2 separate regions of the Homo sapiens genome follow, and region 1 is linked to region 2. The links come from fine-mapping of genetic effects on gene expression. A gene starts in region 2. The other region holds a variant in brackets. All regions are shown on one strand. Distances are between the middles of the regions. Region 1 overlaps ZNF169 (zinc finger protein 169). Region 2 holds the start of ZNF169 (zinc finger protein 169).

Evidence for each region.
Region 1: its variant is fine-mapped to the expression of ZNF169 in prefrontal cortex (GTEx, PIP above 0.99).

The regions. Positions count from the first base shown.
Region 1 is chr9:94,291,116-94,306,794 of GRCh38, reverse strand. It overlaps ZNF169 (zinc finger protein 169), which reads right to left. Exons shown (of 5, transcript NM_194320.4): 3 at 14,328-14,454; 4 at 13,726-13,821; 5 at 4,966-6,980. The coding sequence ends at 5,425. Among named protein-coding and RNA genes, the nearest start is that of NUTM2F, 30 kb to the left of the region's middle. The variant G/T (reference allele first, on the strand shown) is at 7,623.
Region 2 is chr9:94,251,672-94,267,350 of GRCh38, reverse strand. It overlaps ZNF169 (zinc finger protein 169), which reads right to left and starts at 8,053. Exons shown (of 5, transcript NM_194320.4): 1 at 8,006-8,053. It overlaps LINC02603 (long intergenic non-protein coding RNA 2603), which reads left to right and starts at 8,040. Exons shown (of 3, transcript NR_160773.1): 1 at 8,040-8,240. RefSeq lists enhancers at 6,596-7,241, 7,571-7,700, 7,242-7,888, 7,731-8,050, 7,889-8,534.

The DNA.
Region 1 (15,679 bases), 39 kb before region 2:
TAAAATTTTTTTCACATTGAAATCTCTGACCCATTATAAATTCTCATGTATGATGGGAGGAATGGAATTTTATTACTTTTGAAATGGCTAGTCAATGTCCCATTTATTAAAAGAGTATTTGCCACAGTGATTTGATATTCCACCTTTTGATAGGCATTTTTAATGCATTCTGCTCTTTTGTTACTTTGACCTATTCATGTGCCATTACTATGCTGTTTAAATTATAGAGGTTTTGTCAAGTTTTCAAATCTGGAAGGGCTAGTCCCTCTAAAGCACTTCCTGTGCAGCATTTTTGTTGCAATTCTTTAATTTTCCGTAAGGATTTTAGGATTAACTTATAGTCCACGTCAATGAAAAAACTCATTAGAATTTTTAATGATTGCAAAATTTTGTAAACTATAAGGTTAGTGAGACTGACATCTTCATTATATTGAGATGTTCTCACCAAGAAGAGAGGATGCCTTTCTATTTATTGAAGTCTATTTCTGGTTTCAGTGGTGCTTTATAGTTTTCTACTTGTTGGTTTCGAACATTTTTTATTAAACTTATTCCTAAACATTTTATCTTAATCCAATGTTACCAAAATTGGAGTCACTATTTTTTTTTTTTAAGATGGAGTTTCTCTCTTGTTGTCCAGGCTGGAGTGCAATGGTGCGATCTCGGCTCACAGCAACCTCCACCTCCTGGGTTCAAGCGATTCTCCTGCCTCAGCCTCCCGAGTAGCTGGGATTACAGGCGCCTGCCACTGTGTAGTTTTGGTAGAGACAGGGTTTCTCCATGTTGGTCAGGCTGGTCTTGAACTCCTGACCTCAGGTGATCCACCTGCCTCGGCCTCCCAAAGTGCTGGCATTACAGGCGTGAGCCACCATGCCTGGCCTGGAGTCACTAATTTTATATTTCATTTTGTGCTGTTTTTAGGTATTAACAGCCAGGTTTATCATATTCCAGAGTTCAAACGGAGTAACCCGAAAGATGTTTTGGTGGTATGTTTTTTCTTTTCAAAAGGCCTATAGCTGAATGTTGTGTAGTAGTGTTAAGCATAGTTTTTTTTTTTTTTTTTTTTAACTTTTTTTTTTTTTGAGACAGAGTTTCGCTCTGTTGCCCAGGCTGGAGTGCAGGGGTGTGATCTCTGCTCACTGCAAGCTCCGCCTCCCGGGTTCACGCCATTCTCCTGCCTCAGCCTCTTGAGTAGCTGGGACTACAGGCGCCCGCCACCACGCCCAGCTAATTTTTTGTATTAGAGATGGGGTTTCACCGTGTTAGCCAGGATGGTCTCGATCTCCTGACCTCGTAATCCACCTGCCTCGGCCTCCCAAAGTGCTGGGATTACAGGCATGAGCCACTGCGCCTGGCCAGGCATAGATTTCTTATTTCCATAAAACACTAATATTCGTTTCTGGTGTGGTTTTCTATTAACCCAATTAAATCATTCTTTTCCCCTTCTTTCATCACCATTTTTATCTAAAAGAGAGGTTTCAGATGTAACTAGCAGAGATATTATTTTTTAAAAAGTTCCATACACACACACACACACACACACACTTTCTTTTTTTTTTTTTGAGATGGAGTCTTGCTCTTGTCGCCCAGGCTGGAATCAACGGCGCAATCTTGACTCACTGCAACCTCCGCCTCCCGGATTCAGGTGATTCTCCTGCCTCAGCCTCCCGAGTAGCTGAGATTACAGGTGCCTGCTACCACGCCCCGGCTAACTTTTGTATTTTTAGTAGAGACGGGGTTTTGCCATGTTTGCCAGGCTGGTCACGAACTCCCCACCTCAAGGGATCCACTCACCTTGGCCTCCCAAAGTGCTGGGATTACAGGTGTGAGCCACTGCACCCAGCCTGTTTTTTATTTATATATCATTTATCAGGTCCATTTTGGGTGAATGGCCATAGAAACTTCCATTATGGAAAAACACTTTCAAGTACAAGGTCAATATATATGCTGGAATGGTTATTACTTCTATTTATATTCTCAGTAGAAATTTTTAAACTGCTGGCATGAAATGACCCCATACCACACATATGCGTGTGCACGTTCACGTGCACACACACACACACACGCTTCCCTTGTGACTTCAGCTCTGGCCACTGGATAACTCGCTGAGGCAAAATGGCTTCAGTGAAAATGTGTTGATAAGGGCTGTCCCCAGTGGTCTCAGGGCATCCCCACCAAAGCTAACCCAAAGACTGTCTCCAGCTGAGATGCTGGGGTCAGTGACCTCCATCTGTCATTCTTCTTTCATCTATCCTCCCAAGGCAAATTCTTCCAAACTAAAATCTCTTTTCATTCTGGTGAAAAACCCCTCTGAGCCAGCAGTGGCTCCAAGCACTGGGGAGACTGACCATGCAGTAAACATTCGGTGCTGAAGGAACAGGGCCAGGGCCATTCTTGGTGTAGGCATTTGTCAGGATCTGGGGCATTTGGGCTCTGGGGATCAGGGAACAGGAGGGACTATAACTAAGGGGGCAGTGTCTTGGGCTGGATAGAAGGGTGGGTGGCTTCAGAGCCTTAGCTCCTGATTGGAGTTTTAAGGAAGGTTGTGGCTGAAGGGCTGGATCACTGGCACGTAGGCATAGCTAACATGACAGGGATGTGAATAAATGCCCTTCAATCTGGCATCAGGGAAGGTGAGCATGTGGCCAGTGGCTCTCATCACAGACAATGGAAGACTTAGGAAGAGGTGAGGTTGAAGACCGTAATATCCCTGTCCCATAGGACAGTAGCCTAGAATAAATACGCAGAGTAATTCCTCCATGTCTCCGAAGAGGTTGAATGCCTTGGGGTTCTCCTCAAAGTATCAGTGAATGAGGTACATAGCCAGGTATGCAGCTTTGTAGAGAAGCAGTTTATTAAAACAAAAGACCATAAAATACAAAGGACCACTGTGCAGAAAGTAAAGCATAAACCAACTATCTCATGATCAATGAAGGAAAGCAACTCTTTTTCCTCCATTCCATATCAGGAAAGTGGAACATCTGTTATTGATTTCTGCCATCTTCACACTTATGGAGAAAGGAAAGGAATTCAAGAGAGCACTCTTATGGCAGGCGCTCACGGCTAGATACGAATTTTGGAAGTCCAGAAGGCAGAGTGTTATGGACTAAATTGTGTCCCTCCCCACCCAAATTCATATGTTGAATCCCTAATCCCCAGTGTGACTGTTTTTGCATACAGGACATTTAAAGTTGTAATTAAGGTTAAAACAAGGTCTTTAGGGTGTTGCCCTAATCCAGTATCACTGGTGTCCTTTTAATGAGAGACACCAGGAAAGTGTGTGTACAAAGAATAAGCTATGAGACACCACAGAGGGAAGGCAGCCATCTGCAGGCCAAGGAGAGAGGCCTTAGTAGAAACCAAACCTGCCAACACCTCATTCTAGGACTTCCAGTTTCCTGAACTGTGAGAAGATAAATATTCTATTGCTTAAGGCACCCAGTCTGGTGTTTTCTTATGTCAGCCCTAGCAAATTAATACAGATTTTGGTACTGTGATTGGGATGCTTTGTAACCTAAAATGTGGAAGTGACTTGGAACTGGGTACTCGGTAGAAAGAAGCTACAAGAGTTCTGAGGCACATGTTAGGAAAAGCCTGGATGACCTTTAAAACACTGTTGGTAGGAATGTAGATGTTAAAAGGTTCTGGGCTGGGTGTGGTGGCTCACACTTTGAGAGGGCAAAGCAGGAGGATCATTTGAGGCCAGGTGTATGAGACCAGCCTAAGCAACATAGCAAAAACCCGTATCTACAAAATGTTTGGGGTTTTTTTTTGTTTTGTTTTGTTTTGTTTTTAATTTTAAGGTGATTGTGGTTAAGTCTCAGACAGAAATGAGGAATGGGTAATGGGAAACTGGAATCCTTGCAAAGGACTTGCCCAAATTGCGTTCTAGTGTTTTGTGGAGTACAGAAATTGTGAGTGAGGCAGTGCAGAATATTCAGGTGATATTTCTACACAAAGTGATGCAAGTGGAGTCTGTTTTCTCCTTGCTGCTTATAGTAAAATATTAGAGGAGAAAGATAAATTGAAGGAACTGTTAAGCAAAAAAGAACCAGTACTTAAAGATTTGGAAAATTCTCAGCCTGTCCGCATTGCAAAAAATGAGAAAGTATGTTCTTGAAAGAACACTAGGGTGTGGCTGGACAACCATGTGATAAAGAGATTAGTATAGGTCTGAATGGAACCAATTAACCATCTCACCAGAAATGCTGCCAGCTTGAACTGAATAGAGAAAGAGACAGGACAAAAATGAAGGCAGGCTGTTAGACTTCTGGGATTCTACGGGAAGGTACAATAGAGCTATCCAGTTGCAAACGCACGTTAATCTTCAAGAAAAGGGAAGAATGTGATTCTCAAAGGTTCTAATGGGCCCAGAGAGTACAGGTCTAGAGGGCAAGTGTGTCTCCTCCTCAATTTCAGTGGGCCAGGAGCCGCTGCCAAGGGCCAAGGGAGCGACACTGCAGCTCCCGTGAGCCTAAAAAGCAGGGCTGCCAATCCAGTTGGCCCAGAAGGCAGAGCACTGAGCCAAAGGGGATTATTCTCGAGACTTAAAATCTAATGGAAGTTGCCTTGCCAGGTTTGAGACTTGCTTGGGATCCATCATTCTTCATTTCTTTCTCATGTCTTTCCTTTGGAATGGGGAAGTCCAGCCTCTGCTTGTCCCACCATTGTAGAATATTGTGGAAGCAGATATCTGTCTGGTTTCACAGGATCACACCTGGAGAATTTTGCCTAAGGATGAATTGTACCTAAAGTCTCATTCACACTTGATTTAGATGATATTTAAATGAGATTTTGGATCTAGAGGTGAAGTTGAAATGGGTAAAGAATTTTGGGACTGTTGGGATCATGTGAATGTATTTTGAATGTCTGAGGGACCTGAACTTTGGTAGTGGAGTGTTATAGACTAAATTGGGTTTCCCAGAAATTCATATGTTGAAGTCCTAACTGTGTAGTGTGACTGTATCTAGAGATAAGGCCTTTAGGAAGGTTATTAAGGTTAAACGAGGCCATGTGGCTGTGGCTCTATCCAAAATGACTGGTGTCCCTAGAAGAGGAGGAAGCCACACCAGGAAAGCATACACACAGAAAAAAGCCCACGTGAGGACGTGGCCAGAAAGCAGCCATCCGCAAGCCAAACAGAGAGGCTTAAGCAGCAGCCAAACCTACCAATACGTTCATCTGGGACTTCCAGCCTCCATAAATATGAAAATATATTTCCGTTGTCAAAATCACCCAGCCTGGGGTACTTTGTTATGGAACCCCTAGCAAGCCAAGACAAATTGTGAATATAGAAAGTAAACCAAAAATCAACTATCTCATGATCGATGAAAGAAAGCAACATTTTTTTTTTTCCATTCCATTTCAGGAAACTGAAGCATTTACTAGTGATTTCTGCCAGCTTCACACTCACGGGGAAAGGAAAGGTCAGAAGACCTCTTGGGGTAGGAGCTGATGACCAGACTTGGTCCTCCTGTGTCTATGCAAGTGAGACTTCTGGCTAAAGCCACGCCCACACTCCCTGCAGACATACGGCTTCTCCCCAGAATGGGTCCGCTGATGTCGGATGAGGGCAGACTTAAAGCCAAAGCCGCGCCCACATTCATCGCAAATGCAGGGCTTCTCTCCTGAGTGTGTCCTTTGGTCAGAGATAAGGTGTGACTTCTGGCCAAGTCCTTGTCCACACACCCTGTCTACGTAAAGCTCCTCCTCTGAGTGTGTCCTCTGGTGTCGGGTGAGGAGCGACTTAAAGCCAAATGCACGCCCACACTTGGGGCACAGATAAGGCTTCTCCCCTGTGTGTGTCCTCTGGTGTCTGATGAGGGTGACCTTCTGACCAAAGCCACGCCCACAATCAGGGCACAGGTAGGGCTTCTCCCCTGTGTGTGTCCTCTGGTGTCCAATGAGGGTGACCTTCTGGCTAAAACCCCGCCCACACTGGGGGCACAGGTAAGGCTTCTCCCCTGTGTGTGTCCTCTGGTGCCTGATGAGAGTGACCTTTTGGCGAAAGCTGTGCCCACACTCAGCACAGACATAAGGCTTCTCTCCTGAGTGTGTGACCTGGTGACTAAGGAGGAGTGACTGCTGCCTGAAGCTACGCCCACACTCAAGGCACAGGAAGGGCCTCTCCCCTGTGTGTGAGCTCTGGTGCTGGAGGAGTGATGCCTTCTGGCAAAAGCCTCTCCCACACTCAGGACACACGAAGGGCTTCTCCTCCAAGTGCGTCCTCTGGTGTAGAAGGAGGGCTATCTTCTGGCGAAAGCCTCGCCCACACTCCTGACATACAAAGGGCCTCTCCCCGGAGTGAATCCTCTTGTGATTAGTGAGAGAGGATGTATACCTGAAGTGTCGCCCACATTCCCTGCACACATACGGCTTCTCCCCCGAGTGCTTCCTCTGGTGTATGGAGAGGGAGGCCTTCTGGCTAAACCGACGCCCACACTCAGGACACAGGTATGGCTTCTCCCCGGTGTGTGTCCTCTGGTGCTTGATAAGGTCTGATCTCTGGCAAAAGCCTCTCCCGCATTCAGGGCACACATGATGCTTCTGGTGGCTGAACAGGCTTGACTTTTTGCTAAGTCCCAGTCTATAGTTTCCACGTATGACTGCTCCAGATTCTGAAGTGTCTGCTCCCTTCAACATTGTGTCTGACCCCCCAAGACTCATCCTTTGGGCCAGGCGAAGGTCTGTTCCTCCTTCTCTGTTCCCTTCTACCCATTCTACTGGGTCACCTTGATGTGGGCTGAAGAATGTCCTAGAAATTCTGCTTGGCCTCTTTCTTAATGAGCTGTCGGGGCCTTCTGTCTCTCCACTTTCTCCTTTTTCACTAGAGCATCTTGGAGCTTCTAGTTGGAAGTCACCTCCTGCAGATGAGCTTGGGAAGATCTGTGTGGGATGGCCACTTAGCGCATATTGTCTGAGGAGCTGCGAGCTAGAAAAGGCCACCAGGTGGGGAAAACTTGGCTGGAATTCTGTTCTAGGCTCTGCTAGAGAGAAAGTCTTGGTCAGAATCACCACAGGTGACCATGGATTGTAATACCTGCCCAGCAGTTTTCTTCAGATGTTCACAACAAAGACTTATCTTCCAACCCACAAGGGCACATTACATGCTCTATTGCAGCACAGAAAACCCACACTACAAACTAGTCCTATCAGCCAAACTAAAAGGTTCAAAAAAGCATCACAGGCAGCTTCAGCTCTATAAATTGCTGCAAGTAGAGTTACACATTTATCTTCCTTTCTTGGGCGCCGCTCCCTTGCTTTTGCTCCAGCTCAAGCCTATTAAACCTTGCCTGAGAAACATTTGTTCGGCCTGCTGTTTATGCAAGAGCCAAGAACTTGGTGTCTGAGCTGCAGTTAAGAAACAGACTGATTATGATCTTGAAGGTGCTATAAATAAGATCTTAGCATCTGAAGGGGAGCCATGCTTTGGGCTTCCTTGACTGTGGTGACTCAAGTAAGGGGCACCCACGAATCAGATAAGCTGTAGCAAGAGATACTGGCTCCTGTGTGGAATAGGCTTTAGGCCAGGGAGCTTCCATATCAGCCTGATGTGAGTTGTCTCCTGAACTGTATGGACACCCTTAAGTCCTCTTGAAGAAGAGGAATCCCTGATGCTGCCCTCC[G/T]GGCAAATGAAGGTGCTGTCCTCTAGCCTCTGGGAAGACTGCAGCCAAGTATATTCCCCGAATAGCATTGCACAACACTACGTACACTGTTTTGCTCAATAATCCAGGATTTTTAAAAAAATCTGGTGAATTAAGGAGAAGCTCAGCGTTTGAAAGTTAATAATAGATGACTTCTCATTAGCATAAAGATGTTTCAGGGATTATACATATTTCGGCTTAAGCATATTCTTATCCATGCACAAAAACTGTTAAAACTATACAAATTGACTTTTTCAAAAAATTTTGTTTCTAGGTTTAAATAGGCTGCCAATTGGAGATAACACTAATTCCCATGATGGTATAAATTAAAGGCTCTGGAAATTGGCAGTGCTTTCAGCTTCCGTAAGTTGATACCGTAACTCCTAGGTAATTATTGACTAAGTTCTTTTTTTTTTTTTTTTTTTTGAGACAGAGTCTCGCTCTGTTGCCCAGGCTGGAGTGCAGTGGCGTGATCTTGGCTGACTGCAACCTCTGGTTCAAGCAATTCTCCTGTCTCAGCCTCCTGAGCAGCTGGGATTACAGGCGTGCACCACCATGCCCGGCTAAGTTTTGTATTTTTAGTAGAGATCGGGTTTCACCATGTTGGCCAGGCTGGTCTTGAACTCCTGACCTTAGGTGAGAGACGGGGTTTCACCATGTTGGCCAGGCTGGTCTCGAACTCCTGACCTTAGGTGATCCGCCTGCCTCGGCCTCCCAAAGTGCTGGGGTTATAGGCATGAGCCACTGCGCTCGGCAGGACTAAGTTCTTATGAGTCATTATGGGACAGCCCTCAATAGAGAAGTCTGCTTTCATTATCTCTGAAATTGTTTGCTGTAGTGAATAAGCAAAGCATTTGGTAAGAGAAAAATAAGGCATTTTCTTATTCATGGCTAGTTTATCTTTTTTATCTTACTTTTGTTTAAAGACTCCTGCTTTTTAACTCAGATTAGAAATTGAGTCTCCTTGAACAAATTTTTTTTTTTTTTTTTAAAGGAGTCTCGCACTGTCGCCTAGGCTGGAGTACAGTGGCACTATCTCAGCCCACTGCAACCTCCACCTCCTGGGTTCAAGCAATTCTCCCACCTCAGCCTCCTGAGTAGCTGGGATTACAGGCGCACCTACTACGCCTGGCTAATTTTTTGTATTTTTAGTAGTGACAGGGTCTCACCATGTTGGCCAGGCTGGTCTCAAACTCCTGACCTCAAGTGATTCGCCTGCCTTGGCCTCCCAAAGTGCTGGGATTACAGGCGTGAGCCACCGCGCCCAGCCCCTGGAACAAATTTTTAAGAGCATTGATCAGAAATGTACCTGGCAAGTAGCAACCCATAGCAAGAAACTGAATCAGGGTTTCAAGTGCCCTATCAGAACAGAAGTGAACAATTTAATGGAATTAAACTACTTAACAGAAGACCCTTGGTTCAAGGCAGACGATTATAAATACAATACTGATTTATATGTTATTCTATTTGTTAACTATTTTTAATCACAAAATACGTATTTCTTATTTTTGACCATACTATTCCTAAGAAAAACTCTTTGTATCATTGATTAGAGTCAGTAAGATCATATCTGCAAGAGGGAACTTCAGCAGCTTTAGGGATTGCCATTCACATTCCATCTGGAATACAGAGAAGGTCCTTCATATTAAAATATTCCAGTGGAAAAAGATGTGAGTTTTGCAAGATTACAGCATACAAAATCACTATACATAAATCCATTTTATTTCTACATACCATCAATAAACAACTGAAAATTGACACTTAAAAATAGCATCAAAATATGAAATACTTAGGGGCAAATCTGACAAGAGATATGTAAGGCCTGTATACCAGAAATGACAAAACAATGCCGACAAAAATGAAAGAAGTCTTATGTAAATGGAGAGCTATACTGTGTTCACGTACTGTAAGACACAGTATTATTTATGTGTAAGTTCTCCACAAATTGATACAGATTCAACTCGATCCCAATCAAAATCTCAGCAGGCATTTTTGTTAAAAACTGACAAGCTGATTCTAAAATTCATATGAAAAAACAAAGAATAACGAAAAGAACTTGCAAAAAAAAGCAAAGATGGAGGATTTTTTATTTTATTTTATTTTATTTTGAGATGGAGTCTCGCACTGTTGCCTGGGCTGGAGTGCAATAGTGTGATCTCGGCTCACTGCAACCTCCGCCTCCCGAGTTCACGCGATCCTCCTGCCTCAGCCTCCCGAGTAGCTGTGATTACAGGTGCGCACCACCACACTCGGCTAGTTTTTTTTGTATTTTTAGTAGAGATGGGGTTTCACTATGTTGGCCAGACTAGTCTCGAACTCCTGACCTTGTGATCCGCCTGCCTAAGCTTCCCAAAGAAGATGGAGGATTTACAGTGAGTTCAAGACCTAATAAAGCTACAGTAATCAAAACTGTGGTATTGGCATAGAGACACTAACAGAGGAGTAGAAAAAACATAGAGTCCAGGTATAGACCTATCACATATGGTCAACTGATCTTCCACAAAGATACATAGGAAATTCAGTTAAAAAAGGGTAGTGTTTTCAATAAATGGTGCTGGAAAAATTGGATATTTGTATGCCCTTCCTCCCCTAAAAAAGTACATAAATTCAGATCTTTTATCAAGTATATTTACTCAAAATAGGCTTATAGACCTAAATGTAATTAAAAATTGTAAAATTACTAAAAGAAAAAAATGAGAATCTTTTTGACCTTACTTTAGACTAAAATTTCTTAAATACACTACCAAAACTGCAATTCATAAGAGAAAAGATTGAAAACTGGACTTCATCCAAATTAAAATTTCTCTTTGAAAGGCACTATTAAGATTATAGAAAGTAAACCACAGAAAAAATGTTTGTAAATCATATATCTGATAATGGACTTCTACATAGAATATGTGAAGAACTCTCAAACTCAATAATACAAAAATAAGAAACCACATTTTTAAATGGGCAAAAGATGTGAAAACGTACTTCACTAAAGAAGATATAAGATAGCAAATAAGCACATGAAGATACTCAACATCATCAGTCATTAAGAAAATGTTAAAACCACGGTAAGATGCCACTCACTACACAGCTATAAGAATGTCTGAAATTAATAACCAAGCCAAGTTTTGACAAATATGGAACACCTGGAGCTCTCATACACTGCTGTGGGAATGTGAAATGGTGCGGCCACTTTGGAAAGCAGTTTGTGAGTTTCTTCAAAAGTTGAATATATATTGTATCCATCATCATACAACCCAGCCATTCCAGTCCCAGGTATTTATTCAACAGAAATGAAAGCATTATATTCACACAAAAACTTGCATGCTTAAAACAGCTTTATTTATATTTGTCAAAAATGAAAACCCAAATACCTTTTAATAGGTCAGTATTAAAATGTGACCTAGACATATAAAGGAATACTCAGCAATAAAAATTAATAAACTATTGATACACACATTATAGATAAAATTCAAAATACTTATGCTGAGTGAAGAATCCAGTTGTATCCTGTATAATCCAGTTATACAAATTCTAGAAAATGCAGACAAATCTATAATTATAGAAAGCTGATCAGTGGTTGCCCAGGTACAGGGGAGGACAGGAAGGAGTGGGAGGTAGGATTACAGTAAGGCGAAAGAAAATTTTCAAGGATGACAGACATGCTTGTTACTTTAGCTGTGGCAGTGCTTTCATGCATGTATACATATGCCAAAACTAACCAAATTTCACACCTATATAAGTGTAGTTTATTATACCTTAAAAAACATATCTTATAATATACCTTAATTGCTGTATCTTAATAACATTTTTATCATTATTTTACTTTATTTTTTTTTGAGACAGAGTCTCACTCTGTAGCCCAGGCTGGAGTACAGTGGTGTGATCTCAGTTCATTGCAACCTTCGCCTCCCAGGTTCAAGCGATTCTCACTCCTCAGCCATCCGAGTAGCTGGTATTTCAGGCATGCACCACCAGGCTCGGCTAATTTGTGTATTTTTAGTAGAGACGGGATTTTGCCATGTTGGCCAGGCTGGTCTCAAACTCCTGGCCTCAAGTGATCCACCCACCTCAGCCTCTCAAAGTCTGGGATTACAGGCGTGAGCCACTGTGCCCACCCCATTTTTATATAACGAAATGCTTTTAAAAAGACAAAAGCACTCAGTTGCTACATAGTGTAATACCAGCTATATAGTTACATTTAAAAGCAAAAAATAAAACAAAAATAAAATGCCAGGAAACCATGAAAATAAACAAGTAAGAAGATAAAGCAGGCAAAAATTTATTTCTATCTCCCAGCATTCATATAAAATTAATTCCAGTTAAAGACCTAAATGTTTCCATAATTTATATGGGATTTCTACAAATCAATAACAAAAAGAATAGACCCATTGAAAAGTAGGCAAACACCTTGAATGGTCAAATCACAGATGGGGAAACAGGAAGGGCCAAGCAACATATGAAAAGATGCTCATGCTCACTAGTAAGCAACTTAAAAACCCCTCTGAGATTTCACTTCCAGCTGAATAGATGGATAAAACATGAGGTCTCACAATCCCAAATGTTGGTGAGGATGTACAACAAGAATTCTCATAGACTCCTGCTGGGAGCATAAGCTGCCATGCCCACTTCAGAACACAAGTTGGCATAACTTATATAAGTTGAGGCTATGCATGCCTGTGAACCAGCTACTACACACCTAAGTATATATCTTTTTTTTTTTCTTTGTGAGATGGAGACTCGCTCTGTCACCTAGGCTGGAGTGCAGTGGCGCAATCTCAGTTCACTGCAACGTCCGCCTCCCGGATTCAAGCAATTCTCCTGCCTCAGCCTCCCAAGTAGCTAAGATTATAGGCATGCGCCACCACACCCAGCTAATTTTTCTATTTTTAGTAGAGACGGGGTTTCACCATGTTGGCCAGAATGGTCTCGAATTCCTGACCTCGTGATCCACCTGCCTCGGCCTCCCAGAGTGCTGGGATTACAGGTGTGAGCCACTGCACCTGGCCGGTATATATTTTAAGAGAAACTCTTGGACATGTTCCCAAGGAGGCATACAAGAATACAGAGCAAGATTATTTCATAGCCAAAAAGTTGGAAACAACTTAATAACATTATGTGCAGAGAAGTTTACAGACATGCAAAACAACACCCTATATGAGTGAAGAACCCATCAGATGGAATAAAAGGATAAAGACAGTCATGGAATGCTAACTCAGAAAACAGAGGCGGAGGAACGGGACACAATCAGGAAAAGTATGGGGCTATTACCTGGTTTTATAACATGCTATCTCTTAGGGTACAGGGCTGCCCCAACCCTACTCATTGTACAGTTTTTCACACCTTGCTGTAATCTTAAATAATCTATGATAAAAGAAACAAAGTTATGAGAATTTACAGGATAGAAATGATGCACAAAAAAGCTACCAGGTTAAGAATAGAAACTGGCTGGGCGTGGTGGCTCACGCCTGTAATCCCAACACTTTGGGAAGCAAAGGCAGATGGATTGCCTGAGCTCAGGAATTCAAGACCAGCCTGACCAATAAGGTGAAACCCCATCTCTACTAAAAATACAAAAAAATTTAGCTGGGCATGATGGCGGGCACCTGTAGTCCCAGCTACTCAGGAGGGTGAGGCAGGAGAAATCACTTGAACACAGGAGGCAGAGGTTGCAGTGAGCCGAGATCATGCCATTGCACTCCAGCCTGGGTGACAGAACGAGACTCTGTCTCAAAAAAAATAAAAATAAAAATAAAAAACCAGGGGCAGGGACTTAGTCTCAAAGGACAGGTACTGTTTTGAAGATCATGCCAACCACATGAGCCCAAGAATGGAGAAATCCTGAATGTGCTCGAGAAAGGAAGCCAAGTGAGGAGTGAGGCTCCCTGATGGAGGAAGGAGATGGAATGCCAGGGGTGCCCTGTCCTGGGGGGAGGCACACAGTGTGGAAGGCAGGCAGTGCCATGCAGCCTTTACCAGTGGCCTAGGAGGCCTGAAGAAGAACTTCCTCCTAGCACCTCAAAGATAGCCCCTCCTTCCTTACCTGCTGAGCTCCTCACTGCCCTGCACCCTCGCTTGCCCAGGGCTTCCCACTCACCTGGACAAAGGTCCAGAAGATGTTCGTTCTCCTCTCTCCAAGGTTCGTCGCCTTGCTCCAGCTGTTCGATGAGTTTTGGTTTGGAAAATGCAATTCCTACTCACAGGAAAAAAAAACCAAGGTGATCTTGAGTTAGTGGCTTAAGAGGCTATCTCAGAACTCAGAGCCAACCCAGGAATGCAATAAACCCAGAAGGTGGTAGGGAGGTGCAGGGGTGGAGTAAACTATGTCTGAATGCTAAGAAAGGATGCATACAGGGAGGGGATCCTAGACCTAAAGGCAGTATGTTGATTCTACCCTGTGCTTGAGTCAATAAAAATATTCCTCCTTTTGAAGGAGGATAACCTTAGAGGAGGAGCCCAGCCAGGGTAAACAGGCCTGAAAAATGCAGTGTCAGACACACCACACGCTCACAGCATGTGCACGCGCACACACACACACACACACACACACACACACACAACTGCACTGTGAAAGCCAGGCATTCTCTGGGGGAATAGGGGAAAAAACTGTTTTTCTGAGTCAGAAGCATGGCAGCTTGCTATGTAAGAGCTTAAAATACCCACAAGCAGAATCTGAAACCTTAAACAGGCCAGCCTTACCCAGGGAGACCAGATGGCTGTAGTTCTCCAGCATCACCTCCCTGTACAGGGTCCTCTGAGCAGAACTCAATAGCTTCCACTCCTTCTGGGTGAAGGCCACAGCCACATCCCGGAAGGCCATCAATGCCTGTAACACAAACACATCCCTGCTCACTCAACAGCCAGCCATGCCCACTAACCAACTTAAGCCACTAACCACAGTCAAGGCAGAAAGAAGCAGTCCTAGAGCACCCAAGTGAGATTTACAGATCCTGCTTTTAACCTGAAACCTGGTTCCATATATTCAAGACTATTAATCCCCTCCATACACTGATGCTGGTTCTATTTCTGGGCTCTCTGTTGTGCTGATCAAACACACAAGTTTGATTATCGCAGCTACATAGCAGGACTGGAAATCAGGTAAACCGATTCCTCTCACTTTATTCTTCATGTTGAAAGTTGATTTAGCTATTCTAAAATAGCCTGTGCCTGTGCCTTTCTATGCAAATTTTAGAATAATCTTGTCTATATCTCTAAAAGCCTTTGCTGAAATTTTGATAGGATTCCCATTAAACCTGTATATCAATTTGGTGAGAACTTACATCTTTACTATATTGGATCTTCAAATCCATAAACACAGTATGTCTCTCCATTTGTTTAGACCGTCTATGATTTCTTTCATCAACATTTTGTGATTTTCTGCAAACAGACCCTACACATTTTGTTAGATTTACACCTAAGAATTTCTTCAGCTTTCTTCTTTTTTTTAAGTAATTTTAATGGTACTGTATTTTAACTTCAGTGACCATATGTTCATGCTATGACATATGATACAATTGTTTGTCTGTTTTTTCTTCTATACGGCAAGCTGACTAAACTTTACTTAGCTTTAAAAGCTTTTTTTCCCTTCGTTCCTTGAGATTTTCTACATAGACAATCATGTCCTCTGCAAATAGGAACAGTTTCATTTCTTTGTTAATGATCTGTATGTCTCTTATTTCCTTTTCTTGCCTTATTGCTGTGGTTAGAACTTCCAGCGCTATGTTGAATGAGAGTGGTAAGAACAGATATAACGTTGGTTTGTTCCCAATCATGGAAGGAAAGCATTTAATCTTTCACCATTAAGAATACTGTTCTGGCCAGATGCAATGGCTCACATCTGTAATCCCAGCACTTTGAGAGGACAAGGCGGGTGGATCATGAGGTCAGGAGTTCAAGACCAGCCTGGCCAAGATGGTAAAACACCATCTCTACCAAAAATACAAAAATTAGCTGGGCATGGTGGCAAGCATCTGTAGTCCCAGCTACTTGGGAGGCTGAGGCAGAGAATTGCTTGAACCTGGGAGGCGGAGGTTGCAGTGAGCCGAGATTAC
Region 2 (15,679 bases):
CACTTATGAAGCCAAGAAAGCCTTTAGAAACTGGCCTCATATTTTGTGTACACAGTCCCTGTACAGGGTTTCTGATCTGTGGTAAGTAAAGAATGTCACTTTCTGACAGTCCATGAACCCCAGGTTACCTTAGAACCTCAAGAGGAGAGGTATTCACCCAACTGATAGGTACTTGATGATACAAATCCATGGCTGGGCGTGGCATTAAAAAGTCTTATCTCAGATTCCTTCTATGAAACAAAGTTCCATCAAAGCCAATTTAAAAAGCCTACATGTTAGCTGGGCGTGGTGGCGCTCGCCTGTAGTCCCAGCTACTCGGAAGGCTGAGGCAGGAGAATGGCGTGAACCCAGGAGGCGGAGGTTGCAGTGAGCCAAGATCGCGCCACTGCACTCCAGCCTGGTGACAGAGTGAGACTCTGTCTTAAAAAAAAAAAAAAGGCCTACACGAAAAATAATTATTCTTTCTGCACTGTATACAAATAATTAGGCCAAGTACAATGAAGCAAACCAGTTCTACCATGATTTATCTTTTAATAAAAATGGGAAACTGGAAAGAGAAAAATTATGTTTCAAAAACTACAGTACACCTGTTGTTAAATTCTAGTTTCACCTGATGTTTTTCAGTTTTTATTATTTTCTACAATTTGGATTAAATTCTAATTTTTCTGTCTACAGGTCTCCAAAATAATGTTTTCAATTTTTTCCTCCTTCTTTTCCTTTTTCCCTATTTTTCCTAATTTGAAACCACTGAAACCTAAGCTGTGCCTTCTTGAAGCCCTGTGAACTGAAGACTAGACAACTTAAACTTCAGAAGAAAACAGTGGCAACCTATTTATATGTGTTGCTGTTGCACACTACTATGTTTCAGCAGGCGCTGCCTCTATGCCCCCAAAACAGAGACTGCTACTGGGAACAAATTGAACTCTTTCACTCCAGCGCTGCGTTCGATGCTCCGTAACAACGACCCCATCTCAGCAGGAAGTAGCCAGAAAGATTATAATGCCCCATCTCCCTACAATTCTTGTGACAAATAAATATACAAGCATGATAGAAATCATGTGCAAATTGACAGTGGGGATTGTGGCAGGTCAGGTCTCACTAAGAACTGTTTCAGTACTGACTGAGTGGTTAAGTTAAATATTAAAAGTCAGTGCCCTTATACAAAGGCTAGGATGTAACAAAAGCCCATCAACAATTTTGCCTAGGCCTTTCCTGAGCCTTAAAGCATGACAAAATAACTAAGAATTTTTTTTTTTTTTTTTTTTGAGACAAAGTCTTTCTCTGTTGCCCAGGCTGGAGTGCAGTGGTGTGATCTTGTCTCACTGCAACCTCTGCCTCCCGGGTTCAGGCAATTCTACTGCCTCACCCTCCTGAGTAGCTGAGATTACAGGCATGTGCCACCATGCCCAGCCATTTTTTTGTAAATAACTAAGGAATTCTTAACAGGACCCATTTAGGATTAAACAAGTTTTATTGTGGGTCTGAAGAAACTCCCTAGGTCTCCACAAACAAGTTTACTGAGGATCTGAGGGAACTCCCCAAGCCTCCATGATTTAGCAGGAGATAAGATAAGGGTAATCACCCCAGCACCTGGACCCACTTAGATTAAATAAATTTACTGAGGCTCCAGAGGAAAGTCTTCAGGACTCAGACCTTAGTTATAGATTAAAAGAAGTTAATCACTTATGTATTTAGATGAAAGCACACTTACACATAGAGATATAGCTTGTTATATAAGCTCTGGAAAACTTTGTAATTTTTTTTTTTTTTTGAGACAGAGTCTCGCTCTGTCCCCCAGGATGGAGTGCAATGGGGCGATCTTGGCTCACTGCAACCTCTACCTCCCGGGCTCAAGTGAGTCTCCTGCCTCAGCCTCCCAAGTAAGTAGGATTACAGATGCCTGCCACAAAGCCTGGTTAATTTTTGTATTTTTAGTAGAGATAGGGTTTCACCATGTTGGCCAGGCTGGTCTCGAACTCCTGACCTCAAGTGATCCGCCTGCCTCAGCCTCCCAAAGTGCTGGGATTACAGACATGAGCCACTGCGCCTGGCAAAACTTTGTAATTTTGAGTTTTGTGATGATTCCCAGGCCTTCTCCCTGTAACCGGTTACAGAAATAAAAACTCTCTTCCTCCCCAGTTCATCTGCATCTCGTTATTGGGCCACGAAAAATAGCAGCCTGACCCTCAGTTTGGTCCGGGAACAGGATTGTAAAATGGTACAACTATTTTTGAAGACTGTATGGCAGGTTTTTTTTAATGTTAAACATACCTATGATCTGGCAATTCCCAAAGTACCTAAGAGATATTAAAAAAAAAAAAAAAAAAAACAGGGTACAGAAAGAGATATACATCAGCCTAGTAAAAGAACCCTGGAAAAAAAAGAATTGTACAAGAATTGTCACAGTAGCTTAATTACTATACCTAACAATCAAAAACAACAGAAAAAGGAGAATGGATAAACAAAAGGTAGTAGAATCATACAACAAAATACAATAAAAAGGAATAGGAATAAACTACTGATCAAGTAACAAGAAGGCAGAAACAGAATACGTACTATATGATTTCATTTACATGGAATTCTAGGAAAGGCAAAACTTTAGTGATAGGGAGCAAATCAGTTACACAACAATATACATTACTTAAAACTCATCGAATTGTACACTTAAGAGTTGTGATTTTGTAATAAATCTGATTTTTAAAAAGCCTTCAAAGACATTTTCAAGTAAAAGAAAACCAGTAAAATTTATCGTCAGCAGACCTGCCCTGTAAGAGTTTTTGTGAACTGAAGAAAAATTATGCCAAATGGAACCTTGGATTTTCTGTGGTGATTGAAGATCACCAGAAACGATAAATAACGTTCACACCCAAAAAAGACTATTTCTTTTTTCTCCTAATTTCTTTAACATATACAACTGAAGCCAGGCGCGGTGGCTCACGTCTGTAATCTCAGCACTTTGGGGGGCCAAGGTGGACAGATCACTTGAGGTCAGGAGTTCAAGACAAACCTGGTCATGGTGAAACCCCATCTCTACTAAAAATACAAAAATTAGCTGGGCATGGTAGCGTATGCCTGTAATCCCAGTGACTCGGAAGCTGAGACAGGAGAAGCGCTTGAACCCGCGAGGCAGAAGTTGCAGTGAGCCAAAATTGTGCCACTGCACTCCAGACTGGGCAACAGAGCAAGACGCCACCTCAAAAAGATAAAATAAAAGACTGTTTATAGCAAATACATTATATTTGCATTGTGATTGACAGCATATGAAGATTCAATACATATGACAATTACAGCCTGAAGAATGACGGAGTAGGTAGGTACAAGTACCTATACAATTACAAGAGCCCTCATTTTACATGAAGTTGTTCGACATTACATAGACTGTGAAGAGTTACAAATATATACTGTCATCTCTAAAGCAGGCACTAAAAATATAAAGTAAAAATGCAAAGCACTATAGCTAAGTGGCAATTAAGTTATATTGAATTAAGTTAAATTAGAATGCTAAAAAAAAAAAAAAATTCAATTGGCCCAAAGAAGGCAGAAATAGGAACAGGGGAAGAAAAAAAACAGGAGGCAAATAAAAAAACAAACAGTAAAAGAGACCTAATCTAATTGTATCAGTAATTACATGAAATACGCATTCCAATTAAAAGGCACAGACTGGCTGGGCACGGTGGCTCATGCCTGTAATCCCAGCACTTTGGGAGGCTGAGACAGGAGGATTGCTTAAGCCCACGAGTTGGAGAATAGCCTGGGCAACACAGCAAAACATCGTCTCTAAAAATAAATAAAAAAGGCACAGATTATCAGAATAGATTAAAAAAAAAAAAGCAAGACCTAACCATATGTTGTCTACAATATAAAGACTTTAAATATAAAGACATAGGTCAGTTGAAAGAAAATGAATGAGAAAAGAGATAACATGCAAAGAGTAAACATAACAAGACTGAAATGGCTATATTACTATCAGATAAACTACATTTCAAGAGAAAGTGTTACCAGAGATACAAAGGGATGTTTCATGAAAATAAAACAGTCAATTCATCAGGAAGATATAACAAAGATAAATATGTATGCACCTTATAATAACAATGCTTCAAAATACGTGAAGCAAAAATTGACAGAACTCGATGGAGAAATTGGCAATTCCATAATCCTAGTTCGAATTAACACCTTGCCACAACAGTTGATAAAATAACTAGAAAAAAAAATCCATAAGGAAATACAAGATTTGAACATAATAACTAACTTGACCAAACTGATATTAGCTCATCACTGCTCAACAGAATGCACATGCTTTTAAAGGGCCCATGGTACATTCCCCAACTCACACTACATGCTGGGTTGTGAAATAACTCCCAATAAATTTGCAAAGACTGACATTCTACATCATTTGTTCTTTGACCTGAATGGAATTAAATAAGAAGTCAGTAAGAATAGCTAGAAACCCTCCAAATACTTGGAAATTAAATAGATGATGCACAGAAAGGCACTGCATTCATCAAGTGCATGCAATTTTTTTGATGACTTTCACTGTAAAAGGGAGCAGAGAGATAGGGTAATGAGTGTAGTCAGAAATCATGACCCTTCTCAGCCAAGCGAGGTGGCTCACACCTGTAATCCCAGCACTTTGGGAGGCCGAGGCAGGCGGATCACGAGGTTAGGAGATCAAGACCATCCTGGCCAACATGGTAAAACCCCGTCTCTATTAAAAATACAAAAAAATTTAGCTGGGCATGGTGGCGCACGCCTGTAGCCCAGCTACTCAGGAGGTTGAGGCAGGAGAATCGCTTGAACTTGGGAGGCAGAGGTTGCAGTGAGCCGAGATCGCACCACTGCACTCCAGCCTGGGCGACAGAGTGAAACTCTGTCTCAAAACAAAAACAAAAACAAAAGAAAAGAAAAAAAGAAATCATGACCCTTCTCTTGTCAGAACCCGGCAGTAGATCTCGCTGACCTCAGATAAGATCCACACACAATCTTGGCACCCTAGGCTTTCCCCAGTAATAGCCTAACCCCCTTTTCCCATCTGAGTTTCTATCCTCCATGAACTTCCTTTTCCAGGCAAAAAAGACAACTGATACCCTCAAAGTCAGTCAGTTGCACAGTCCAGGTGGGTGCCAAGCACTGTGTCAGTGACCCATGAGGAGCCAGACAAGGTGCCTGTCCCCTCAAAGAACTATCTCAAAACCAGTGGGACAGTCAGACAGTTGAGATATACCATGCCAGCCGTGGAGTCCTCATATAATAAAGTGCTCTGAAACTAAAAAGGACAATGGAAGTAATTCTGCCAGAGAAAACTCAGGAAAGCTTTGTAGTGGACAAATATCTGTAGTGAGGCAACTTTTGAGACAAATACGGAAACAACACAGCCTGAATAAGTGATACTAAATAAATTCTGTTAATTTTCTTGGGTATGATCATTAATGCTGAAGTTGTTTTTCTTTAAATTCCTTATTTATGAGAGATGCATACTGAACACTGAAGTATTAGATTGGTGCAAAAGTAATTGTGGTTTTTGCCATTTACAGATGAAATGATATGACATTTGAATTTTGTTTTAAAGAACTACATCAGAGAAGTGTCATACACAAGTTTTACTTCGTTCTACATTCACAGCAGCTCCACGAGGTTAAGTACCTTGCTCAAAGTGACAGTGACAAAGGGAGAGACCTGGATTTGAACTCACTCTATGAAGGGTCACTCAAGACACCAAATCCTGGTATAGACCCCTAGTGAAAGAGACAATTTCCAAAGAGATCCACACTTGGGGTTGCAGATTTGGGGGAAAGAAGACAGGTGAGTCATTTGTAAGTGGTGAATCTGAGTGATGAATCCATGGAACTTCAAAACTACTTCTGGATATCTTTGCAATGTTTTCATACTGAGAAGTTAGAAATAAGAGTAGGTCTTGGCCGGGCGCAGTGGCTCACGCTTGTAATCCCAGCACTTTGGGAGGCCGAGGCCGGTGGATCAGGAGGTCAGGAGTTCAAGACCAGCCTGACCAACATGGTGAAACCCCGTCTCGAGCGGGGTGCGGTGGCTCACGCCTGAAATCCCAGCACTTTGGGAGGCCGAGGCGGGCGGATCACGAGGTCGGGAGATCGAGACCATCCTAGCCAACATGGTAAAAACACAAAAATTAGCCAGGTGTGGTAGCGCGTGCCTGTAGTCCCAGCTACTCGGGAGGCTGAGGCAGGAGAATACCTTGAACCCGGGAGGCGGAGTTTGCAGTGAGCCGAGATCGCGCCGCGCCACCCCACTGCACTCCAGCCTGGCGACAGAGCAAGACTCCCTCTCAAAACAAACAAACAAACAAACAAACAAAAAACAAACCCCGTCTCTACTAAAAATACAAAAAAAATTAGCCGGGCGTGGTGGCGGGCGCCTGTGGTACCAGCTACTCAGGAGCCTGAGGCAGAGAATTGCTTGAACCCGGGAGGCCGTGGTTGCAGTGAGCTGAGATCACTCCACTGCACTCCAGCCTGGGCGACAGAGTGAGACTTCATCTCAAAAAAAAAAAAAAAAAAAAAAAAAATGTAGGTTTGGATGCCTTCCACCCAACTTCTTCCCCCACCTCCAGGAATTCAAGGAGTCACTCAACAGCCCCCTGAGGCTTGAGAAAAATGTTCCTTGGCCCTATGGGCACCATTCTGCTTGTTGCAACCCATGCTCCCGGAAGGGTCCCCAAGTCCGAGGGAGCCACACAGCTGCAGAAGCCGACAATCTGGATACAAGCACGCCCCCATGCAACCCACAACCCAGGGATGTCTAACTCCAGGCAAGCCCTTCTCAACTCACCAACTTGGGTCCCCAGGCCCCAAGGCTACTGACCCGAGTCGCACGGCCCTAGCCGTCCCCCCCCCCACTATCAAGACCAAGTCTGGATGTCTACCCACAAACAATCCTCCCCCACAAACCCGGGTCCTAGTGGCCAAGCTGCACCATCACCACCACAGTGCACCAGCCATCCACAAGAGCCCTAATAACTGGACTGAGGTTGGGCACGGTGGCTCACGCCTGTAATCCCAGTACTTTGGGAGGCCGAGGCGGGGGGATTACTTGAGGTCAGGAGTTCGAGACCAGCCTTGCCAACATGGTGAAACCCCGTCTCTACTAAAACACAAAATATTAGCCGGGCGTGGTGGCGTGCGCCTGTAGTCCCAGCTACTCGGGAGCCTGAGGCAGGGGAATCACGCCACTGCACTCCAGCCTGGGCGACAAGAGCGAAACTCTGTCTCAAAAAAACAAAACAAAACAAAAACCAAAAAATTAGCCGGGCGTGGTGGCGGGTGCCTGTAATCCCAGCTGCTCGGGAGGCTGACGCGGGAGCATGGCTTGAACCCGGCGGCTGGGGTGGGGCGCGGAGATTGCAGTGAACCGAGATTGCGCCACTGCACTCCAGCCTGGGCGACAGAGAGAGACTCTGTTTCAAAAATAAATAAATAAATAAATAAAATTTAATAAATAAACAAATAAACAACCCGACTGATGCCCAAGCCGCGTGCCTCCCACTAATGGGGAAGTTTGCTCCAACCGAGGATATCATGTCCTCCAAAGGCACATTTGCTGGCCCAGAGACCTCCGAGGCGCGATGGTGGGGAGGGGATGGCGGGATACTAGTGGCAGGATGCTGTCTGGGTACCCCAGGCAGAGCCCACTCAGCGGCCCCCGAAGTACCGGGGACGCACCTGCGAAGTAGCTCGGGAAGTCGGTCCCAGGCCTGCACTGGCCCCTCCAGGTCAACATACTGGGCCCAAAGTCCCGCCAGAAGCACGCGACAACGCCAACGCCCCCTCCCCACCAGAGGACCTCCGCCAAGACCTCTCTCCGGGGTGGACCACGCACGCCCAGACCCCACAGCCGAAACTCAAAACACCAAGGAACATGTGGCCACGACATGGACTGCCCATGCCAGCTTTCCCGACCTTCCTTCCAGTGGAAGGCCCGCGAAAGCGGGGACCACCTCCGGGCTAGCTCACCAGAACTGTGAAAGGACACTCACCACGCACCAGGCGACGATGCCGGAACGCGGAAGTACGCGAGCCGGACTGCCCCTGGGCACGGAACTACACTACCCAGACTGCCACGGGGCGCGCAACTACCCTACCGTGGATGCCCTGGAGCGAGGGACTACAACATCCAGAATGCTGCGAGGGGCGGGACCGCAGCATCCAGGAGAAATTGTGAAAAATCAGAAAGTAAAATCTAACTTTCGGGTCTATGAGAAGGGTGGTCAGGTGAGCAGTAAGTCTTCTTTAACTTTTTATACGGTCCTTCTAATTTTTTTTTTTTTTAAAAAGATGTTACATGTCCTCCATCCTGCAAATTCACACCTGTGATTGTACACCCCTGAACTTTATCTACTTACTTATTTTTTGAGAAGGGGTCTTGCTCTGTCGGCCAGGCTGCAGTACAATGGTGTGATCATAGCTCACTGCAGCCTCAAACCCCTGGCCAAGCAATCCTCTCACCTCAACTTTCTGAGTAGCTGGGAATACAGGTGCATAGCACCACACCGGGCTAATTTTTTGTTTTGTTTTTTAGAATCTGGGTCTCGCGGCCGGGCGCGGTGGCTCACGCCTGTAATCCCAGCACTTTGGGAGGCTGAGGCGGGCGGATCAGAGGTCAGGAGTTCGAGAGCAGCCTGGCCAATGTGGTAAAATCCCGTCTCTACTAAAAATACAAAAATTACCTGGGCGTCGTGATGGGCGCCTGTAGTCCCGGCTACTCAGGAGGGTGAGGCAGGAGAATCACTTTGAACTCGGGAGGTGGAGGTTGCAGTGAGCCAAGATCGCACCACTGTACTCCAGCCTGGACAACAGAGTGAGATTCCTTCTCAAGGGGGAAAAAAAAAAAAAAGAATCTGGGTCTCGCTATGTTGACCAGGCTGGTCTGGAACTCCTGGCCTCAAGCAATTTTCCCACTTCAGGCTCCCAAAGTGCTGGGATTACAGGCGTGAGCCGTCCTTGTGGCCCAGGCTGCCTTTCGAGTTTATTTAGGGCCCTCTAGCCAGAGGTGGTGAGATTGGCAGTAACTCAAATTCCAACTGCTGGGATAGGTGATTCTCCTCGGGCTAAGGCTGGTGTAAATACTCCCTCCATGCGTGAGAATCAGCTGTGTTTGATCCAGTTTTGCTTTCTGGTATAACAGGGCAGCACTGAGTTCAATGCAATGTCTCATCATTGCTGTGCTTGCCGTCTCCCAAGAACATAGATTCTCTCTCCGCACCACAGAGCCACTGCTGGGGGATGGGTCAGGGGCATTGGTGATTCAAGACTGTCTTTCCTACCTTTTCAGTGCCTCTTTCAGTCATATGAAGTAAAAACCAGGTACTGCGAGTGCTTACCTGATTTTTGGTTCTTGTGAAGGTGCTTTTGTGTGTAAATAGTTGTTAACTTGTTTTTCTTACAAGGGGGAATGATCAGTGGAGCCTTCCATTCCACCATCTTGCTCCACCTCCCACCCCCATGTTTTAAATGACAGTGTGTATGAATGTACTTCTAAAAATGCCAAAAATACTGGGGTTTTTTTTCCTGTTATAAAGAAGAAGATTCTGAAGTTTTTTTTTTAATTCCAATTGATTACAAGAAGATAAGGAAAAACTAAACTTGAGGACATTTAACACTATAGCAATTAAAGTTATCTTACTAATGCAAAGATTGTTTATTAGATGTAACAGAATAATACGCTCAAAAACATACCAAAGTCTTTGCAAAATGAGTTATACTCTTTTTCTAAGAATTTGATAAAAAGTGGTATTTTTAAGTTACTTCCTATTTGCTTCTTCTCAAAATGAAGTAACAGGAACCAGATTTAGCCCTTCACCTTAATCAACATTTAAAAGGACAAAATATATGAAACATTTGAAGACATTTGACATCAGACAATGAAGAGCAGTGGAAATCATGGAGGTGAGCCTTTGAACTTCCCGCAGATGGAGAGAATTTCCAAGTCATAGCACAGAGAAGGGAAACTCAAGTGAAGCATGGAGTTCAACTTGAGGAGATGGAACTGGGAATCTGAGGAGGCATATGCATCTAGAGTTCACAGGGCAGAGTACAGAAAGGGAGAGAGAGCGCCAGAGATGTGCAGAGAGTCCTCTTCCTCAGGTATTAGTTAAGTGCTGACCAGCATGTACATGTGAGGAAACTCCTCAAAATTAGGGGTAAAAAACACTAGAAAGGGTTAGAGGGCAATACTGTGAGCTCAAAAAGAACAGGAATAATGTCTGTTCCCACGAGACAGAGTGGAAATGCTAATTCACATGGCATCAAGTCATGTACTCGGAAGGGTTTTGCCTCAATAGTGGGGCAAAAATTAACCTAAATGCTTCTCTGGTCTCACCTAACAGAGCTTAAATCCAAGCCTAGAAAGGACTGAATTGTTCCCAAGTAACTTAACTGCATCCCAGATAAAAAGCTCAAGAATATTTAAAAGAATACAAAACTATCCAGCATCCAATAAGGCAAAATTGGGGACTTTTTTTTTTTTTTTCTATTCTTACACCTGCTTCCATCCTAAGACCCTGGATTTTAGAATTCCAATTAAAAAAATGCTAGCATGCAAAGAATATATTCCCCAAAATGAAGAGAAAAGTCAACCAATAGAAATTACACAGAAGATATAATTAAAAGGTAAGGACACAAGCTGGGCACAGTGGCATGCGTCTGTAGTTGCAGCTACTTAGGAGGCTGCTTAAAACGATTGGGACAATTGCTTAAACCTAGGGGTTCCAGACCATCCTGGGCAAGACCCTAGCAAGACCCTGTCTAAAAAAAAAAAACCAAGATAAGAGCACTAAAACATTTATTGTAACTACAACTTCAAGAAGCTACAGGAAACACTTCGAGACCCTGTCTAAAAAAAAAAAACCAAGATAAGAGCACTAAAACATTTATTATAACTACAACTTCAAGAAGCTACAGGAAACACTTCAAGAAGGGTTTTTCTATACATCATGCCATACTGGATGGTATGATGATTAATTTTACATGTCAACTTGGCTACACTATAATGACCAATTATTTGGTAGTAGTCTAGATACTACCATGTAGATATCTTACATGTGTAATTAACATTTTCAGTCAGTTGACTTTAAGGGAGATTACACTCCATAATGTGGGAGGGTTTCATCTAATCAGTTGAAGGCCTTAACGGCAAAATCTGAGGTTTCCAGAGAAGGAATTCTGCCTTAAGACTCTAACAGAAATCCTCCCTGATGTTTTAGCCTGCTGTCCTGCCCCGTGAATTTTAGACTCAAGATTGCAATATCAACTCTTACCTGAATTTTCAGCCTGCCTGCCCTACAGATTTCAGACTTGCCAGCCCCTGCAATTGCATGAGCCAATCCCTTAAATAAATCAGTCACTCTCTCCCACTTGATAAACACTTGATAAACAGATCAATAGATAGAATATATATATGTATATATACACACATATATATATATATATATACAGATACATATATCCTATTAGTTTTTTCCTATCCTATTACTTTTTTCTTTATATATCCTATATATACATATATCCTACTCACTCTCTCTCTCTCTCTCTCTCTATATATATATATCCTATTAGTTCTATTTCTCTGGAAGACTTTGACTGACACAGTTGGTATTGCAGCAGACTGGACATTTCAGGGGAAAAAGAAGTTAGCCTGAAGACATGGAAGGGGAAACTATTCAAAGTAAAACAGGGATAAAAAATACTCAAATGAAAATTATGTGATGAAAATTATAAGCCAACAGATTAAAGCATCTCAGTGAAGCCTATGCAGAGGAAACATGAAAATAACAACACCAAGGTACAACTGCTTAAAAGCAGCTATAAAGAAACTTGTTTTAAAAAGCCAGAAAGAGGAGACATATTATGTACAAATGAACAAAGATAACAGCAGATTTCATTCAATAAAAAATGCGGCCGGGCACGGTGGCTCACGCCTGTAATCCCAGCACTTTGGGAGGCCAAGGCAGGTGGATCATAAGGTCAGGAGTACAAGACCAGCCTGACCAACATGGTGAAACACTGTCTCTACCAAAAATACAAAAATTAGCCGGGAGTGGTGGTGCGCACCTGTAATCCCAGATACTCAGGAGGCTGAGGCAGGAGAATCGTTTGAACCCAGGAGGCGGAGGTTGCTGTGAGCCAAGATCGCACCATTGCACTCCAGCCTGGGTGACAGAGTGAGACTCTATCTCAAAAAAAAAAAAAAAAAAAAAGCAAGGTAAAAGGAGCAACATCTTTAAAGCACTGAAAAAAAAAGCCAATGTATCAACTTAGAATTTTTTACCCAGTGAAAAAACAGGATGTCCTTCAATCAAAAGGAAAAGGATACTAGATGGAAATAAGGATCTACACAGAGAAATGAAAAATGCTAGAAAGAATATGTAAAAGCTGTGTTTCTATTTAAATAGCTTTAATACATAATAAACTGTTTAAAGTAATAAGAAGGTATTGTGATGTTTATGATATATATAGAAGTGAAATGCGTAACTATGATAACAGAAAGGCCAGGGCTGAAATGGAAGCACATTGTTGTAAGGTTCTACTTTGTGTAAATAGTATAATACCACCAAAGGTAAATTGTGGTAAATTAAAGATGTGTAATATAAACTCAAAGATATAACTGAAATAACACAACCAACATATACCCAATGAACCAACAAAGGACAAATGAAATCATTAAAAATACTCAATTCAAAAGAGGGCAGGGAAAAGAATAATAATGAGCAGATGATGGGTGGGCGCGGTGGCTCACACCTGTAATCCCAGCACTTTGGAAGGCTGAGGTGGGGAAATCACCTGAGATCAGGAGTTCGAGACCAGCCTGGCCAACATGGTGAAACCCAGTCTCTACTAAAAATACAAAAATTAGCCAGGCGTGGTGGCACACGCCTGTAATCCCAGCTACTTGGGAGGCTGAGGCAGGAGAATCACTTGAACCTAGGAGGCGGAGTTTGCAGTGAGCACCACTGCACTCTAGTCTGGGTGACAGAGCAAGACTCTGTCTCAAAAACAAGCAAACAAAACAAATAAACAAAGGGAAGTTGCACATTTCCAGTTCCCTCACAGTGGTCAATCTTTGGATCCACGTTTCAGCCAACCAACCAAACTGTTAGAGCCCTTTCTAAGTCCCTGAGCTGAAACATTAAGTGTAGAATCTCTGCTTAGTGGGCTCATATTAATGAATTCAACCTGATCCAACTTTACGTTCCTTCCCCCGTTACCCCACACCCTTAATATTGATTCCTAAACATGTTCCCTGGTTTCTGCTTGTTTAAACTAGAAAATCAAGCAGTTCTTTTGGAATATAGTATACCTTTTCATGGGTCACACTTTGTACCTCTTCTTCAGGAACCTGCTGGGACTTCAGTCTAGGTATAGGTTTAGAAATGAAAAGGGGTGGTGCGTATGGGTCTTGAGAAAAACCAGCAGTGTCTTGCAAGACAACTGCCTCAGGGTAGGCCATTACCATTTCCTCAGGCAATGCAAAGTTAATCCCTTCAGGCAGAGGTGGAAAGATGAATATCACTGCAGGTTTGGAGGCCAGCTCCTCTGGGGTTGGGGAGACCTCTTCCACTGGCAAAAAGATTCATCAGAGTTTGGAGGCTCAATGTCTCTAGCCTTATTAAAGTCATCCAAGTTTACAGAACCCCATTCTTTTCCAATGTCCTCACTTTAACAGTAGACACCTATGCGGCTTGGAGTTCAACTTGTGTTGTAATTCAGCCAATCATAGAATGAGGTTCTGCATTTGATTTTTCAGCAATTTCAGCCCTGTGCCTATAGGAGATAAGGCTCTCCTTCAGGGTATGCTTAGAAACTCTTGGATCATTTATGCAGCACTTGACCTGGGAATTCAAATCCCTGAGTTTGTCTTTTTCTTTCACCACTTTGTCCAGTGACATTAGCATTAGCCAACTACATCATTATATTCTTTAGTTTTCCAAAAATGTTTGAAAGTATCATATACAAAGTCACTTATCTCCTTGCTTCTTATAAGTGGCTGATTGGGAGTATCCAAAGCAGATATTTTGTGTATCTATATGAACATGCCATGGATTATCTAGTTTATACCATGGATTATCAGTGCTCTCTTTTTACTACTGGAAATAGAATTATTAACATCTTTAAATCAATTCATACTAGACAGCCAATTCCAGAACCAATTCAGAAAACTCATCTTAAAAATTCTGTTCCACTAGAACCACTCTCAGCACTAAAATCTGTATTAGGGTTCTCCAGAGAAACAGAGCCAATTTTATATATACATGTATAAAACAGATAAAAGAAAATTTATTTTAGGAATTGGTTCACATGGTTATGAAAGCTCAAAGGTCCCATGACCTACTATGGGACCTACAGCTTGTAGCTGGAGAACCAGGAAAGCCAGTGGTATAATTCAGTCTGAGTCTGAAGGCTGATAATATAAGTACTGGCCTGAACCTGATGGCCCAAGAATCAGGGGCATCAATATCTGAGGGCAGGAGAAGACAGACATCCAAGCTCAGAGAGAAAGAATTCACCTTTCCTATCACGAGGTCAAGAGATCGATACCATCCTGGCCAACATGGTGAAACCCCATCTCTACTAAAATACAAAAATTAGCTGGGGATGGTGGCAGGCACCTATACTCCCAGCTACTCGGGAGGCTGAGGCAGGAGAATCGCTTGAACCCAGGAGGCAGAGCTTGCAGTGAGCCAAGATTGCGCTACTGCACTCCAGCCTGGGTGACAGAGCGAGACTCCATCTCAAAAAAAAAAAAAAAAAAAAGAATTCACCCTTCTTCTACTTTTATGTTTTATTTGGGCCCTGAGTGGATTGGATGCGGCCCACATTGGTGAGGGTGATTTTTTTCACTCAGTCTACTGATTCAAATGCTAATCTTTTTCAGAAACACCCTCACAGACACAGCCATTAATAATGTCTTACCCGCTATCTGGGTATCCCCTAGCCTACTTAAGTTGACAAATAAAATTAACCATCACAATAAAGTTACCTTCTCCTCCTAGTTTGTCGTTGAATATTTTCATCTTGAAGATATAAATCTTCAAGTGGAACAGAACCACTTAAATGTTGTCAAATGCTCTTTCTGAATATGAAGATAATCCTGTGGGGTTTGTTCTTTGTTCCACCAATATGATGCATTATATTGATTTTTGGATGTTAAATTAATCTTGAATTTCTGGGATAAATTCCACTTGAATGTGGTATTTAGCCCTTTTTTATGTTGTTGGATTTAGTTTGCTAGTTTTTAATTGAGGGATTTGCACCTATTTCATAAGATATATTGACTTGTAGTTTTTTCGTGATGGCTTTTTCTGATTTTAATATCGAAGCAATATTTGCTTCAAAGACTGAGTTGGAAAGAGTTTTCTCCTCTTTTGTTTCTTAGAAGAATTTGCGAAGAATTGCTATGGATTCATCTTTTTTTTTTTTTTGAGACAGATTCTTACTGTCACCCAGGCTGGAGTAGAGTGGCACAATCTCGGCTCACTGCAACTTCTGCCTTCTGGGTTCAAGTGATTCTCCTGCCTCAGCCTCCCAAGTAGCTGGGATTGCAGGCTCCTGCCACCGTGCCCGGCTAATTTTTGTATTTTTAGTAGAGACGAGGTTTCACCATCTTGGTCAGGCTGGTCTTGAACTCCTTACCTCGTGATCCACCTGCCTCAGCC